Regions from separate parts of the Homo sapiens genome. Here region 1 is linked to region 2. A link means that fine-mapping ties the variant in region 2 to the expression of a gene that starts in the linked region. Tissue or cell type: whole blood. Region 2 holds a variant in brackets; the other region holds the start of a gene. All regions are shown on one strand. Distances are from middle to middle.

Region 1 (8,150 bases), 45 kb before region 2:
CAAGGAGTTTCAGGAGGCCTTTGGGAATTCCTTAGATGTTAACATTTGTTAATTAGGCCACATATTCTTTCTTTTGTGGCTATTAAAAAGAGCATATGAAAAGAGAGACAGAGGATGTCTAAGCAACCATTAAAACCACCATCCCTCACCATATTTCAAATTCCAGATTGGTGATGTTGACATCTGGGTCCTCAAAAGCACAGGTCAGTGAGTGCTGCGATCCATTCACTTCCAACTGGCTATAGCATGAGAATGAGTAGTCATCCAGTTCTGCATCTTCCAAGTCTCCTGGGGAGGAACAAACATGCAGCTGTTAATGAAACAAATAAATGCATCCTTTTGAAATATGGCATGACCTTAATAAAATAGCAGACTCTGTGGCAGACATGAAATAGTAATGGATTATGTAGTATTCAAGGAAGAAAAGCCCAAGGGCAAAGACAAGAAAAATGCTTCAAAACCAACCAACCAACAAAAAACAAAAAACAAAAACGCTCAATGCTAACAGAGTTTTCCAATAGAAAAAAAAAATCCATCATAATGAGTAAGTAACCTCCAAATATTTCTGAGTTAAAGAACCAGAGGCATTGAACACATTCTTTTCTGTATTTAAACTGGAGTTTTTTCTGCTACATTTGTTACATTGATTGTTCATATTATTTCAAAGAAGAGACACTTTATTTCCATTATCCCCATGCTACCTAATCTCACTTTTCACTTTATTACAAATCATAATTTATTCCCTCCCTAGTATTTTTTTTGTCTTAAATGAAGGACAATGATAGCTATCTTGCAGTCAGAATTTTGCTTTTTTAAGAGGTCACTTTCCCTTGCCTAAAAAGGCATCCCAATTAAAAGTGGCACTGATTATTTCCATTGTCTTAAGCTACTGACTGAGACAAACGTGATTAGGGAAAAAAAATTAGATCTGGCAGGACTCCGATTTGGTGAAACTTCCTGTGAATGTTGTACATACTGCTTCTGTTCTTATAGATTCTTCTATAGACGCAGTATCTGATAGATTCTAGCAGGATGCTGGAAGAAAGTGGGGAACCAGATTTTTTTTTTTTTTGCTATTACTTTTGGAAAGTGTGATCTGTCACACATAGTATTTGGTTTCTTAAGCTGTTTTGTAGACCCTATAATGAAATCTACATTTTGTATGTATGTTTTACATGATAGAAAGTGAGGCTGGAATAAATATGTCAGAAAATATACACCCACTGGGACCTGAGAAAATCTGGAGTAAGCAAAGCCATTCTCAGAGTGCTCAAGTGTGAGCCTAGGACTGCTTCCATGTATTTTTGGTTCATCAGTACTAGAAATTAGATGCTTCCAAGGCTTTACACTGGAGACAGAATATACTAAAATCAAATCCCAGTTGATTGTCCCAGAGACCAAGGGCTGTCCGAATAGCACTTTCTTTACTTAAATAACTCAGTAGGGAAAATGGGAAAGTTAATAAAGCTGACTGTGAATGGACCAACCAGTTGAATGACAGGTTGGTTCAGTCAAAGCAACAAATCTCAAACAGCCCTAGCTAGACCATGGGTGTGGGCACTGCTCACAACCACAGGCATTTGTTTTTCTGGCCATTCCCAGAATCCATCCAGTTCACAGTTCTGCCACCAGCAAAAGCTCTTTATGTAGTTTCAGCAGGGTATGGCCCTCCTTCTGATGACAGCACGAAATAATGAGAGACAGCCCACTAATTTTGTAGACTTAGATTTCTTCCCTGTGCAGTGGTAGCTTTCTAAATGCAGTGGTTCTGACCTTACATGGCAGTCCTCACACTGTCCTGACATTTTCTCTTCCACCAATTCTATACACAGAACATGTATTATTATTTGGATTCAGACATCCTGTGGGTCGGCTTTGTCTTCACGATTCTTCAATAGAGACAGCACACTCTAGCAGATGTCAGCACCCACATAACAAAGGACTCCCACTGCCACTCAGTCTGGCAAAGCATACAATATACAATGAGCCATTTATACACTGTTTCCTGCACCTAAAATGGCTGTGTTTTAGGAAGCAGCTCACTGGCTTTTCAGTAGATATTATGGGGCAGAGTTGCTTTGTAACCAAGAAAAATTCCCTTCAATGACTTATAAAATGTGATGGCATTTTACAAAAAGAATATTCTACATGACGTGAGCTGAAAAATTCTTGGCTAAGAGTAGTTAATGTACACAGTGGTTAAGACCTGTGGTGTTAGAGCTGGACAGATGTGCGTTTAAATTCTGGATACTCTACCTGTGGTCCTCTGTCAGGTAGGCAACTTCTCTAAGACATGTGTTCTAATATGTAAACTCGTGCTATGAGCAATCACTGAATGGATATTTACAAAGAGGTAGCTTAGAACACAGTAAGGATTTAATAGGGATTAGCTATGAGTATAATATTTTCTGAGAAATAAGTAATGAAAAGGTAAAATAAGAATTCTAATTCTGAAAATATACATGAAACATTTGAGCTTCTCTTTAAAAAGTTTATGTCAATTGACGGTGTTATAATTACTATGGTTTTGAAATTACATAGAGCTTTTGAATAATGAGTTAATCTATTATTCTTTAAATGCTCAATAATTAATATTATTCATATTTAAATAGGTATCTAGACATATTTATCCATAAAAATTTAAATTGTGTGGAATATGTATCATAGGCAAGCCAGTGTCATCTAGAAGTCTTCTTCCTACTGAATGGAGTTAGTTGATTAATAGTGTAAATGATTTGGATTTTTAAAAAGTATCCCTTTCTTCTCTTGATCATCCTTGTGATGATCAGAAAATTGACAACTTTCAACAAGCAGCAACTGAATGTGAATTCCTATACCCCAAACTGGGAAGTATTTTGACGTAATCATGTGAATAGGGTAATTATACATCTTCTAAAAAATCTGAAACTTAAAAAGTTGGAGTGAAAACCCAGCTTTCAACTAGCATTCTTATATATTTTAAAAATAGTATGATCACCAGGGTGAACTAGTGAGTATAGATGACATGAAAGAGAGTAAGATTTATGTTTCCTGCCTCCCATCAGTCTTTGTGGAAATCCAAGGCAAAGTTTAGCATAGAATAATAATCATCCCCCATAAAGTGAGTCATATACTGTAAAAAATGTCAAACTCTCTGACAATTCCCTTAATGAGAAAATTCTAGGGATTTCCATCCTTCGTAATTACATGACTCAAAATGCATAAGCTGAGTCATTAGGCTGATGTGTTTGATATTGTCTATAGCCAAATAGTTTTTAACTCTTAAAGAGAAAGGGCTTAATTTGCAGGAGCAAGTTGATGGTCTAAATTCCCACATGCCTCCTGCTGCTGTTAGAAGCTTCTGCCTAGTTTTGTTATAATTACAATGTGTTTATGTATGGGCAGGGTTGGCTTCTCGGTACTAAGTTTTTTAGATCCCAAAAAGAATTATTACATATGGCCAATTTGTTGGTGTGGAGGCAATTCAGTGTATTTCAATGAGTAAACTCATTTAGATCTTTCTCTAGTCAGTTATTTACTTAAAATCTCACATAAATCTCTCAAAACTAAAGTATTTTGAAAACACTTTCAAAAGTTATTGGATGTCTACTATATTCTAGCCACTGATTTAGGTGCTGAGGATATAGCACTGGTCACTGAAGACAAAGCTATTGCTTCTGTACATTACCTTATCCTGAAAGTTATGCTTTCAGGATTTCTTAAAAAGTCAAACAAAATGAATCCAGTTTGATCTCCTGACAAGGTAAAATTACTTTGGACATTTTCCTACAAGTACAGTCATAGCATCTACATGAGCATTCTTTTTGTAAGAGCAGAGTAATCATTCAACATTTAAGATCTACACTTGGGAGTGAAATGCATTCCTTCTTGAGAATACTGAGGTCTTATAAACCACCCATAGTATTGATCCCCTGCCCCCTGTCATGGTGGTTAAACATTAAAAAAAATGACTGAATATGTGGGAAATTCTCAAACTGCATTCAAACCCAGTGCCTGACTCAGGTCTGTTAGGGAACTGAATAACCTGAAACCATGCTACAGATAATCCAAAATCCATAAGAAAACTTAGAAATGACTCACCATTTTGAGCATAGCCACTTTCTCCAGAAACGACTTGAAGTAAAGAAAAAACCATGCCAAAAGTTGTACCTAGAATTGTCATTCTGAGAGAGATAGAGAGAGAGAGTAGATGTGTGAGCCAGTGTGTATGAAATGAATGAGAGTAAGAGGAAGGGAGGGAGGGAGGAAGACAGAGAAGCTTAGATCTAGGGCTTTATACTTATCTAACCACAGACAAGGGAAGTATAAACACAGCAAAAAAGAAGGCAAGTTCCAGAAACAGGAAGTCTGAGTAAAAGTATTGCTGCTGTAAGCAGAGGTCAAGGACATGAAGAGACAGAGCCTCTGAAATTATTGTTCCTCCTGGATATTCCCTGCAGCCCCCACACTTACTGTGCTTACATCAGAGTAAGGCAGTAGATTCACACCTAGGCTCAAGCTATCTTAGGCTAGAGGCTACTTTATTTTTTTAATTTTTATTTTTTTGAGACAGAGTCTTGCTTTGTTGCCCAGGCTGGAGTACAATAGCATGATCTCGGCTCACTGCAATTTCCACCTCCCAGGTTCAAGCAATTCTCCTGCCTCAGCCTCCTGAGTAGCTAGGACTACAGGCAAATGCCACTATGCCAGCCTAATTTTTGTGTTTTCAGTGGAGACGGGGTTTCGCCATGTTGGCCAGGCTTGTCTCGAACTCCTGACCTCAAGTGATCTGCCTGCCTCAGCCTCCCAAAGTGCTAGGACTACAGGCATGAGCCACCGCTCCTGACTAAGGGCCCACTTTAAAAGAATCTGAAGACAAAAATTCAAACTTACAAAGTGAATCAATTGGTTGTTTGGAGTGAGTTTTGATTTAAAGAAACAGTCTGCACTATGTGAAGTACTTTATTGTGGGTTTATTTTAAATAGCTTACCTCCAACTTCCAAGTTTCACAAGAATAGCAGTTTTTCTCTTTTGTTCTCTGTGTATCCCTGGTATTTACTCATATCTTACACACCACAGTAGGCATTCAAGAATTATTTGTTTAGGGCAGGGGCTGGCAAACTATGACCTAGGGAACAATTTTTTAAAAAATTATTCATTTATTTTTTCTTTTTCAAAAGATCTTTTTTTTTCCCAAGTAAGCCTTGGGACCAAATTTAATCTACCACCTGTTTTTGCAAATAACGTTTCATTGGAATACAGCCTCACCCATTTGTGTATCATCTACAGCTGCTTTTATGCAACAATGGCAGAGCTAAGTAGATGAGATAGAGATTGTATTGTACAAAAGGTGTAAAATCTTTACTATCTGACCCTTTGTAGAAAAAGTCTGCTGACCTCTTGTTTAAAGGATAAAGTAGGTACTTTCTTAGTGTATTTAAAACAGGATTCTATTTGTGAAAATTTGATTGCCACACAACTTTTCAGGTACACATAGTACATATGAACTAAATTAGTGCCTAGGTATATGGGGCAGAAATCTGAGACCATGGCATAGAAAATTCAGACTCCCCCAAACCTGAATGCCAGTCAAAAGCCTTCCTAATATGGCCTCATGGTTAAAGTGGTGATATTTGTAAAGCCTGACTGCTTCTTGGTAACTGTTAGATTTTTTTTTCTTTTTCTTGAAAAAAATAATCTAACCTGGATTCAGGCCATAAAACTCTATGCTTGATTCACAGTGGCTCTCTTTTGGAAAAATGCCACAAGACTGCAGTTATAAGGTGAGGAGTGCAGAGAAACTAAGTGATCAGTGAGTTATGAACTTCTGTTGGATTCACTGTCATTAGGTAGAATTGCTCCCATGGGCCTGTGAAATGGCTAAAATTAGCAGAGACAAGCAACAACCCCCCAGGTGTAAAGCAAATCGAAGAGACTTTAAAAGACTCATGATTTAGCTTGTCCCATCATTACAATTATTTGACAATAACGAAGTAACAAAAAAAGGAGGTGGGACATTTGTACCAGTCTCTGGATCCTCCTTTTCAGTTTTAAGACAGACTCCGTCTGCACCAGTTATAATGCCACACTTTGGAGTATAGGCTCAAGGAATACTTCGGAGCAAGAATCCAACTGAAGGGGACATATTCCATCTTCTCCATTTGTCAGGGCCTTCTCTGGGCATTTCAAAACCCTTCCAAGCCAAATAAAGAGTGACAATTTTGTGCATCGATAATAATTTATGCCCTCATTTCTAATCTTGTTTTGAAAGCTTGGTTAGAAAATTGTAAGCCTGATTCACAAAAATTGGTATGTTTTGTACACTGAGCTAAATACCCTTTCAAGAAAGCTATAATTACAGATTCCCATGAATTAAGCTAATGTTCAAGGAGAAATCCCAAATTATATCTATCTACCAATGCAAATCTCCTAAACTGCTAACAGATTGTCACTTCATGGGTGAGTAACTGGGTTATGTCTCTTTAAATTCTCTTGTTTATCATTTAAGTGGACTATCATTTTGATTGTATCTCTTTCCTTTAGTTGTGAAGATGTAAAAGAACAAAGCCAAGACACAATATTTTGGTACAGCATGTGCTGGTTTGTTCTGGGGATTTCCACAGGGGTGCTTACTCTTGGGTGGGGCAGGAGATGCTGAAAAGACCTCAGAGAGAAGCCTAAAGTGTGGGGAGCTCAAAGAAAAATGACATGCGTCACCAGTCCTTCTAGAGATTGTGGGGGAACAACAGTGCCTTCTCTCTTTCCTCACTCAGGTCTTGTTAGTCCTTTGGAGACTTAGAAAAGCTGAGGAAGAACCACCTAGTTCACCCTATCCCCCAGGTAACAAACATTTACTATATTACTTTGTCATTACTTTTGTGAGACAAGCACAGAAAGAAGAAAAGAGGATGAGGAACACTATTTGGGGACACTCAAGTCTCCAAATGTGAAATCAGGAGGGAAGCATTGGACTGTGGTAGAAGCAAGCAGTTTGGCGTGGCAACTGACTTGGCCATATTTCTTCTCCTCCTCTTCACCCATCACTTCCTTTCATGGCTACATTTTCTCGTCTCTCTTTTGTACTTTGTCTTCCTTCAGTTTGATGAGTTTGTATGATGTAGTGAATCATTAAAAAGGAAAGCCAGCTGGGTGCAGTGGCTCATGCCTGTAATCCCAACACCTTGGGAAGCTGAGGTGGGCAGATCACTTGAGCTCAGGAGTTCAAGACCAGCCCTAGTAAACATAGTGAGACTCTGTCTCTGCAGAAAATAGAAAACTTAGTCAGGTGTGGTGGGGCCCGCCTGTAGTCTTGGCTACTCAGGGCTGCAGTGAACCGAGATTGCGCAGTGAACTGAGATTGCACCACTCCACTGTAGCCTGGGTGACAGAGTGACAGTCTGCCTCAAAAAAAAAAAAAAAAAAAAAAAAAGCCATTTGATTCTTTCTCATACACAAGCAGAACACACTGACCTTGTTAAGACTCCTGACACCAGTTGGCCAAGTCTCCTTTTCTTCCTTTTTTGTAATTGTTCAGGCTATTTGCCCAACAGGCAAAACACAAAAAAGACTTTCTTTTATCTTCAGATTGCAATAAGTTCTGTGGTGTTCCTATATAACCGGTAGAGTCCTAGCAAGTTAAGAGAACTTATCTTTTAACGAGATTGAGATCCTAAAATGTTAGAGGGGTGTATCCATTATTTGGTTGTTTGTTGTTTGTTAACTGGATAAAAATCTAGCCCAGATCTTCCTTTTTTTTTTTTTTTTCTGATTAGTAAAGACAAAGGTTTTCCTGGGAAAATTCAGGCTGAGCATCTTGTCTTATTACTAGTGTTTACTATCTGGATCCATCTATTAGGAACAGAAATTTTGACTCTATTCTCTACAGAAATTATGAATTTAGTTGGACAGATACCAGTGTATCATGAGAACCCTGGGAAACAAACTGTTTCAAGGACAAAAGCATTCCTCTGACTCAGTTTTTAGATGAAGCTTATAAAATAGTCCTTAAGCCTTTAGCAATTTGTCCTAAATGAGGATGATTTAAAAGTCACTCACCTTGGGACTATATATTGAAGGACAATAAGTGAAACAGCAATAATAACAGGCAGTAAATGTTGCAACAGTAATATCCTGGGTAAAATCTGATGTTTGAAAAATACTGAAAACACAT
Region 2 (8,210 bases):
TTATTGATAAAGTGACATTTGAGCAGAGACCCGGAGGAATTTGTGGGACAAATAATGCAGAGATGTGGGAGGAAAATCATTCTAAGCAGAGAGAATAGCAAGCACAAAGGCCCTGCGGCAGGAGTGTACCCGGTGGGTTCTAAGATGTGCAAGGTAGTTTTGTCACTTAAGCAGTGAGAAAGGGGAGAACAGTAGATGGGGTCAAAGAGGCAGGGAGGGTAAGATCAAGATGGGACTTGGGCTGGATTCTGGGTGACATAGGACATAGAGGGTTGGAGCAGAAGTGTGACATGGCCTGACTCGCATTATAAAAGGCTCCCTCTGGCTGCTGTGCTTAAAAACAGCCTGTAGGGCGAGCAAGAACAGAAACAGGATCACTGGTTACCCGGATACTGCAGTAATCCAGGCAAGAGATGGCAAAGGCTTGGACCAGACTTCCTGCGACAAAGGAGTAAAGAAGATCACATTCTAGATGCATTTTCAGGGTCTATCCTACTTGATGTGCTGATAGGCTGGAGGTGGGATATGAGAGAAAGAGGCAACTCAAGGATGACTTCAAGTTCTCTGGTCTGAACAGCAGGAGGACACAGTTGCCTAAAGTGAAGGAGGACTTAGAGGAGCAGGTTTGCGGAAGAGGAAAATCAGAAATTCACCTCGGACACGCTGAGTTTGAGATGACTATTAGCCATCCATGTGGAAAATGCGGGGCCATTAAGACAGAGAAGTTTGGATTTTGGACGAAGGTGGGAATAGAAATTTCAGTGTTGGGAGCCTCTGTAATACCCATGAAGTCATGGAAATCGATGAATCATCCAGAGCTTGACTGCAGATGGAGAAGGCTGATTCCTGGGGCCCTCCTAACTCAGAGGTTGAGCAGAAGAGGAGGATTCAGCCAATGAGGAGACCCACAGGGGTTATCATAGAAGCAGCCCAGCCACCAAGAATACATCACCATTCTTGAAACAGTTTATTGATAAGTGTCATTGAATTTGAGTCACCAACTTATCAAGCGAAAAGATGAAATTGTACATCTATCTATGAAGGAAATATATTCTATTAAGAAATAATTATGAATAGATGATGGGAACAAAGCTTTACTAGCAGTTCAATAATGCAGCCTTCTTCTTGGCTATTGAAATAAACCTGGAAATTTTACTGCATATGGAGAAAGAACTGTAAGATGTACCTAGAAGCACTGTGCTGATGTGGAGTTTTGGGGAAATTTTCACTATATCTGCCTAATGTAGATACCTTTCATAGGGAGTTTTCATGACTTATTTTTGAACATCTTGTTTTGGGGCCTTCCATTTTCAGAATCACTTCAAAATGCATTCCTGCTTACTTTGGATTTTTACTTTGGATTTTTTTCTCTCTTTATTATGAAATATTCTCCAAGTTAAGGAAGGTTCCATTTTCAATGCCGATAATGAACTGGTAGGGTTCATTTCTATACTTAAAATGGTAACATATATGACAAACACCATGGTCACATTTAATTTTTGGAAGATTTATTGCAGAATTAAAAAAATCACACTCTTTTGTCTTCATTTCTTTTCCTCTGTATGTCTTGAAGGTGATCTCTCTCCATCACTTCCTTGTACATGTTCACTCCTTTGGAGAATTATTTTAATATCCTAAGACAAAAGATTCAAAGAGAAGTTACAAATACTAATAAAGGATGATCAATACTATACTATACAAATACTAATAAATGATCACATAGTACATGGCAACCATTAAACAGTTTTTATTTCTTTTTTTCCACTGAGCAAATTTCTCCATTTAGTTTTAATCCCACCCTGAGACTTACTACTTGTATGTTTGGAAAATTATCTAAGATCTTGGACCCTCAGTTTCCACACCTAATAATGGAGTTGTCATATTAGGTTAATTAACATTTGTAAAAGCAGTTACACAGAACCTGGCATATAATGAATGGGCAAGTTAAAAGATTGTTTCCTTATGAATGAACAAAAAAACCAGTATTCACCCTCTATGAAAGTAAATGCTAATGCTAAATTAATCATGTCTATAGATTTGTAGAATTTTAAAACAAAAGATTACTTTCCTGAAATTGTCTCATTCTTTCATTGTAAAAACATCAGGGAAAGAATGACCTGTTTTACATTTGCTATACAGCTATCTTACATCTTAAATCACAGATATTTTTCAAAATATATTTAAACTATTATTACAATGTAGAAGGAGTACCAACATGTGAAAAATACAGAACTGCATTTAGGTAGCTTTTAGGTTTTTTTTTTTATTTCACAATTTTAGAGAAGTATTTTAACAATATAAGTTCCTTTTCCTCAGAGCTGAGTTTCAAAGGCTTCAATTTGACTGTGATCATTTTAGTTGAGAAGACATGAGTTTGTTCACCATATGTGCTGACCCTTGCCAATTGACATATGCACTGCTTCTATCAGTCACTGCGAGGAATCATAGTGAATCATTTTCTTTAGAGATCTTGTTCCTTGAAAACACAAATCTCCTAAAGCCAAAGGTCAATGCTAAGTGAACCAAGTGGAAAAGAAAAGCTGCTCCCCATTGACTTTTCTAGTCTTACCCAGTATAATTCTTCCATTTATTATTTATTTTTTTTAGAAATAGAGTTTCGCTCTGTCACCCAGGCTGCAGTGCTGTGGCATGACCATAGCTCACTGCAGCCTCAATCTCCAAGGCTCAAGAAATCCTCCCACCTCAGTTTTCTAAGTAGCTGGGACTACAGGCACATGTCACCATGTCCAGCTAATTTTAAAATTTTTTATAGAGAGGAGTCTTGCTCTGTTGACCAGGTTTCTCTCAAACACCTGGCCTCAAGCAATCCTCCCACCTCAGCCTCCCAAAGTGCTGGGATTACAGATGGCAACCACTGTGCCCAGCCCACTACAATTCCTAATAACATGTCTTCTTTATATAGTATGTTTATAATAACTAATGTCATTTTAATATTATCAAAAGTTAATTTGAGGATTAAGGAATAAGCTAACTTGTGATTATCTGACACTCCATAGCAAGGGGAAAATGATAAGCTCCAGATATATTTAAACCAGTCTTAGCTAAATTTATAGCTGAAATCAGGGACCACAATTTTCAGTAGCAGTGAATGGAGAAGAGCCTGTGAAAGCCAGAAAATGTTTGACACTGGTGCTTTGAAAACACAAAGCACTGAAGCAGCTATCATATTTTGTTATAAAGATAAAGGAGAAGCTTAGAGAATATTTTAAAGTCAGGTGCCCTGAAGACAAGAGGGATGAAAGTCTCCTTCAGTTCGCACTTATAATTATAGGTATGTTATCCTAATGTAATTGGGTCCTGATTCATTTGTTTATAAGATATTTTCTGGTGATATTCTAATGTTAACATTAAAAGATTTCTTGCTATCTCCTATTGAATATAAACCTCAATTATAAGGTAATATGCTTGATTTACATATTTGTTTTAAAGAATGTATAATAATTGAGCCTGCGTTCATCACAAGAAACTAAAGTTATTAAGTTTTTAGAGAAAATTGTTTATTCATTTACATTTATAAATATATATTTATCACAGGAAATTGACTTTGTTCACCAACAACCCAGTTCCAATATCCTCACTGATCTTCTTATATTTATACAAATCATTTTCTTAATAATTTAGGAGCATTATTTGAAAATAACTTTTTTGTACAAGGCCTATGAAAGTGGAAATTAAATAAGTGACTTTAGCTGAATGCCTATAATGTCCAACGCAAAATCTGGAACTTCCACATAGGTATGGACCAGAGGCTTCCTGGGACTTCAATTTGGACCCTTTATCATCATGGCACTGCACCAGTAAAGTCCTTCTTTTTTTCCAAAGACAAGACATATGTGTTCAAGAGATTAGATGCCAGCTCACTAGTCCATCCACATATAATTGCACGTGATTCAGAATTTCTTGTGCACGGTAACTACTACAGACCAGCAGTAGTAGAAGTAGGTTGGTGCAAAAGTAATTGTGGTTCTTTGCCATCAAAAGTAATGGGAGGCCAGGTGCGGTGGCTCATGCCTGTAATCCCAGCACTTTGGGAGGCCAAGGTGGGCGGATCACGAGATCAGGGGATCGAGACCATCCTGGCTAACACATTGAAAACCCATCTCTAATAAAAAAAATATGGAGAAATTAGTCGGGCGTGGTGGCAGGCACCTGTAGTCCCAGCTACTCGGGAGGCTGAGGCAGGAGAATGGCGTGAACCCGGGAGGTGCAGCTTGCAGTGAGCCAAGATTGCACCACTGAATCCAGCAATCCAACCCTCCAGCCTGAGCAACAGAGCGAGACTCTGTCTCAAAAAAAAAAAAAAAAAAAAGTAATGGCAAAAACTGCAACTACTTTTGCACGAACCTAATAGTAGTAGTAGTAGTATCTCATATATATTGAGTGCTTTCTATCTTCCAGGAACTGAGTTAAACACTTTATATGTATTATCTCCTTTAATTTGTACAAACCCCACCCCCCCCACCATGAGGTGACTATGATCATTGGCCCTATTTTACAGATGCAGACACCAAGGCACTTTGAGGTCACTTGCCGAAGGCCACACACTTCATAGGTATGAACCCAGTCAGTGCAGCTCCAGAGCCCACTCTCATAACCAAAAGCCAGTACACCTTAAATGCATTATTACAATTATGCATACTTATTTTTTTCAAATATGTATCTTAAAATGTTGTCACTTCTAAACAAGAACCTTGTAAACATAGAGCTGTTAGGCAACAACCTTCACTTCCCACTGTTTATAATAGCAAACAACATTTTAACCTGAAAAACCACACTCTAGCTTTTGCTCTTCTTATCTTGAAAGATCTTCAGATGACATCACTGTGGTTGAAGTGTATTATAAAAATGTGATCTATTTACTTGTACATGGATATCTGAAGCAAAAAATGACAGGAC[G/A]AGTGCAGTGGTTTGAGTCTTCAAAGATTCTTTTCTCTCCATTCCTTCATTTCTTTTGTTTTTATTTTATTATTTATTATTTTTTTTTTTAGCAAAAATGAGAATAGAACACCTTACTGGAAAGGGACCCTTTTTCACTGTAAATATTAGAATGTAGACTTTTCAGGACACAGGCACAACTCTTCTTGATGGACCATCATACAAATGAGTCCCCTGGGTGGTAGTTTACTGGCCTCTAATTAGATTCCTTGGTGGAGTGACCAGGAAGAGGTGTGGAGGACTTGAGGAGGGAGAGTTAAAGTAGATGACTCAGGTATATCTTAGAGAAGCATTCTGGCAATGAACTAACTCACTAACTAACTCTCTGCTATGAGAATGCCAGGTGCTACAGGTATTGTGAGACTGGTTAACAGAAGACAGACACCCTGCTGCTGGGTGGCTTTCAGCCAGAGGGGTACTGTGCATCAAGGAAAGCTTGGCAAATGTGCAGGCAGAGGTGGTTTTGGAGATCAGTATGTCAGGATGTTCCTGGAATACAGGGGGTAGGGCCTGAAATGTTAGGTATTCTGCCACACTTGGGACAGTTATCCTCAAAGAGGAACTGTGCTGCTCCAAATGCCAATAGTACTTCAGTTAACATTGCTAGTTGCTGACACTCCTTCAGAAATGAGGGGAATGTATAACTTAAAAGGAGTCCTCCAGCACTTTGGGAGGCTGAGGCGGGTGGATCGCCTGAGGTCAGGAGTTCGAGACCAGCCTGGCCAACATAGTGAAGCCCCATCTCTACTAAAAATACAAAAAATTAGCTGGGCGTGGTGGCAGGCACCTGTCATCCCAGCTACTCAGGAGGCTGAGGCAGGAGAATCGTGTGAACCCAGGAGGTGGAGGTTGCAGTGAGCCCAGATCATGCCACTGCACTCCAGCCTGGGCAACAAGAGCAAAACTCTGTCTCAAAAAAATAAAGTGGGGGAGTCTTATGGATGACAGGTTTCCTGGGAAGTCAGAACACCTATTCGGAAAGGCTAACTCTTGAAGGTAGCCATCTGTTGGCTATTTTCTTTTCTCAAGCAAATTGTCAAATAGAATCTTCTTTGCAAGTTCATCATATTTAATCACTCTGCTCAGAGTGAAGATATTTTCAAGTCATACTGATTTTGTGGGAGTTTTCTTTCCAGTATGAGAGGAAATAATTGTGGCATCATTTTTATGCTCCTACTTGTAATCAGCAATATAAAATAAGTCCTATTTTACATAATTCCAAAGGATTTTGCAAATTATTTTACTGGTTCAATGTAAGAGAGCTGTTCCCTGATATGTGGAGCAGGGAATGTAAGCTAAAATGCAGTCTAGAGAGATGGGCCTATGGAATCCACGTTGTGCAGGATGACATTATGGCACAATATCCCCAAGGAATGCTTAGGGATGAAGAAATTAACATCATATCATGCTCTGCTCAGCAGCCTGTTCATTCTCTCTTGCTTTTCAAATGGAATCCACATTTCCCTTTGTGACATCTGGGTTCTTCGCAATCTGGCCTGATCTGACCAATTTAATGGGATCATTTTATACCTTTCCCAGGCTATTCATGGGGTGGGGCTCCTGCAGTCCTTCTTCCATGCCTTCCCCAGACCTTGCCTTCACCCAGGACTCTGCTGCCTCCCTACCCCAACAGCAAAATCCATGTAGACGTCCCTTTCCCTCTCTCCACTTTCCCAAACCCTGGCTATCGTTCAAGACCTAGCTTATTCCTTCTTGGGCAGACTCCCTCCACACTTCCAGCACAAAAATGTCAAGTATTGAATTCCTATAATTTTGCACTTGGTTGGTTTAACTTATATCACTTTCTTGCAATTCCTGCATGTAAAAATTATCTTGCAAAAAGGAGTTAAATTTTTTTAGAGCAGTGACCAAATTATGTACTCAATTTTCTCTCTCCTATGGAAGCTTATACTACGGGTCTCAGTAGTAGGTGATCAGTATTGAATAGTACCCCTAACAGCCATCATTTCTGTAGCACTTCCCCTGTGTCAGATACCATGCCAAGTGCTTTACATGCATGACCTCACTTAATCCTCACCACCACCCTTTGAATATGAATGTTTCATCCCCATTTAACAGACGAGAAAGCCAGGATTAGGAGAAAGTTAAGGTCAGGGAGTTACTGAGGGGTAGACCTGAGATTCAGTCCCATGACCTGATTCCAGAGCCTGTGTTCTTACATGCTGTAATCATATTTCACTACTGCATAGGCTTCGTGTCTAAACAGCTGCTAGCTTGTTTTATATATATATATATATATGTAAAACCCAATTTTTTTACATATATATTTAAAAAATATATGTATATGTTACATACATATATGTATATATATTGGGTTTTACATATATACATATATACATATATATGTGTGTATATATATACATATAAATATATATGTGTGTATATATATACATATAAATATATATGTGTGTGTATATATATGTAAAACCCAATAGCAAAGACTTGGAACCAACCCAAATGTCCATCTATGATATATACACTGGATTAAGAAAATGTGGCACATATACACCACGGAATACTATGCAGCCATATAAAAGGATGACTTCATGTCCTTCATAGGGACATGGATGAAGCTGGAAACCATCATTCTCAGCAAACTATCGCAAGGACAGAAAACCAAATACCGCATGTTCTCACTCATAGGTGGGAATTGAACAATGAGAACCCTTGGACACAAGAAGGTGAACATCATACACTGGGGCCTGTCATGGGGTGGGGGAAGGGGAGAGGGATAGCATTAGGAGATATACCTAATGTAAATGACGAGTTAATGGGTACAGCACACCAACATGGCACATGTATACATATGTAACAAACCTGCACGTTGTGCACATGTGCCCTAGAACTTAAAGTATAATTAAAAAAAAAGAAATCAACTTCAGTTATACTAATACAGGCAATAAAATTAATTTTAATATTAATTAATAATTTAATATTTAAAAGGATCAGCAACTTAGAACAAAAACGTTTAGGCACACAGGAAGATATTTAAGTCTGAATAGTTTCATTTGTGGGTATAGGAAGAAAACTGCAAAATGTAACTTGCTATCATTGAGAAGTCAAGATACACAATCTACATTCTATCAAAGTGAAAGCGCTTTTATTTTCAACTCAGCAAACACTTTGTAGTTCAATACACAACTCACAGGAGTCAAACAGGGAGACTTCGTGTTAAACTGGTATCTGAGAGGGATGTAGTGCTACAGTATGAAAGGGGGTTGGTGTCAGCCTCT

Evidence for each region. PIP is the estimated chance that this variant, and not a neighbour inherited with it, causes the effect.
Region 1: it holds the start of IL7R, and the variant in region 2 is fine-mapped to the expression of IL7R in whole blood (TOPMed, PIP above 0.99).

The regions. Positions count from the first base shown.
Region 1 is chr5:35,852,990-35,861,139 of GRCh38, reverse strand. IL7R (interleukin 7 receptor) reads right to left here and starts at 4,249. Exons shown (of 8, transcript NM_002185.5): 1 at 4,081-4,249; 2 at 150-288. The coding sequence starts at 4,162. RefSeq lists an enhancer at 1-447.
Region 2 is chr5:35,807,888-35,816,097 of GRCh38, reverse strand. SPEF2 (sperm flagellar 2) reads right to left here. Exons shown (of 37, transcript NM_024867.4): 37 at 1,487-1,634. The coding sequence ends at 1,545. Among named protein-coding and RNA genes, the nearest start is that of IL7R, 45 kb to the left of the region's middle. The variant G/A (reference allele first, on the strand shown) is at 4,918.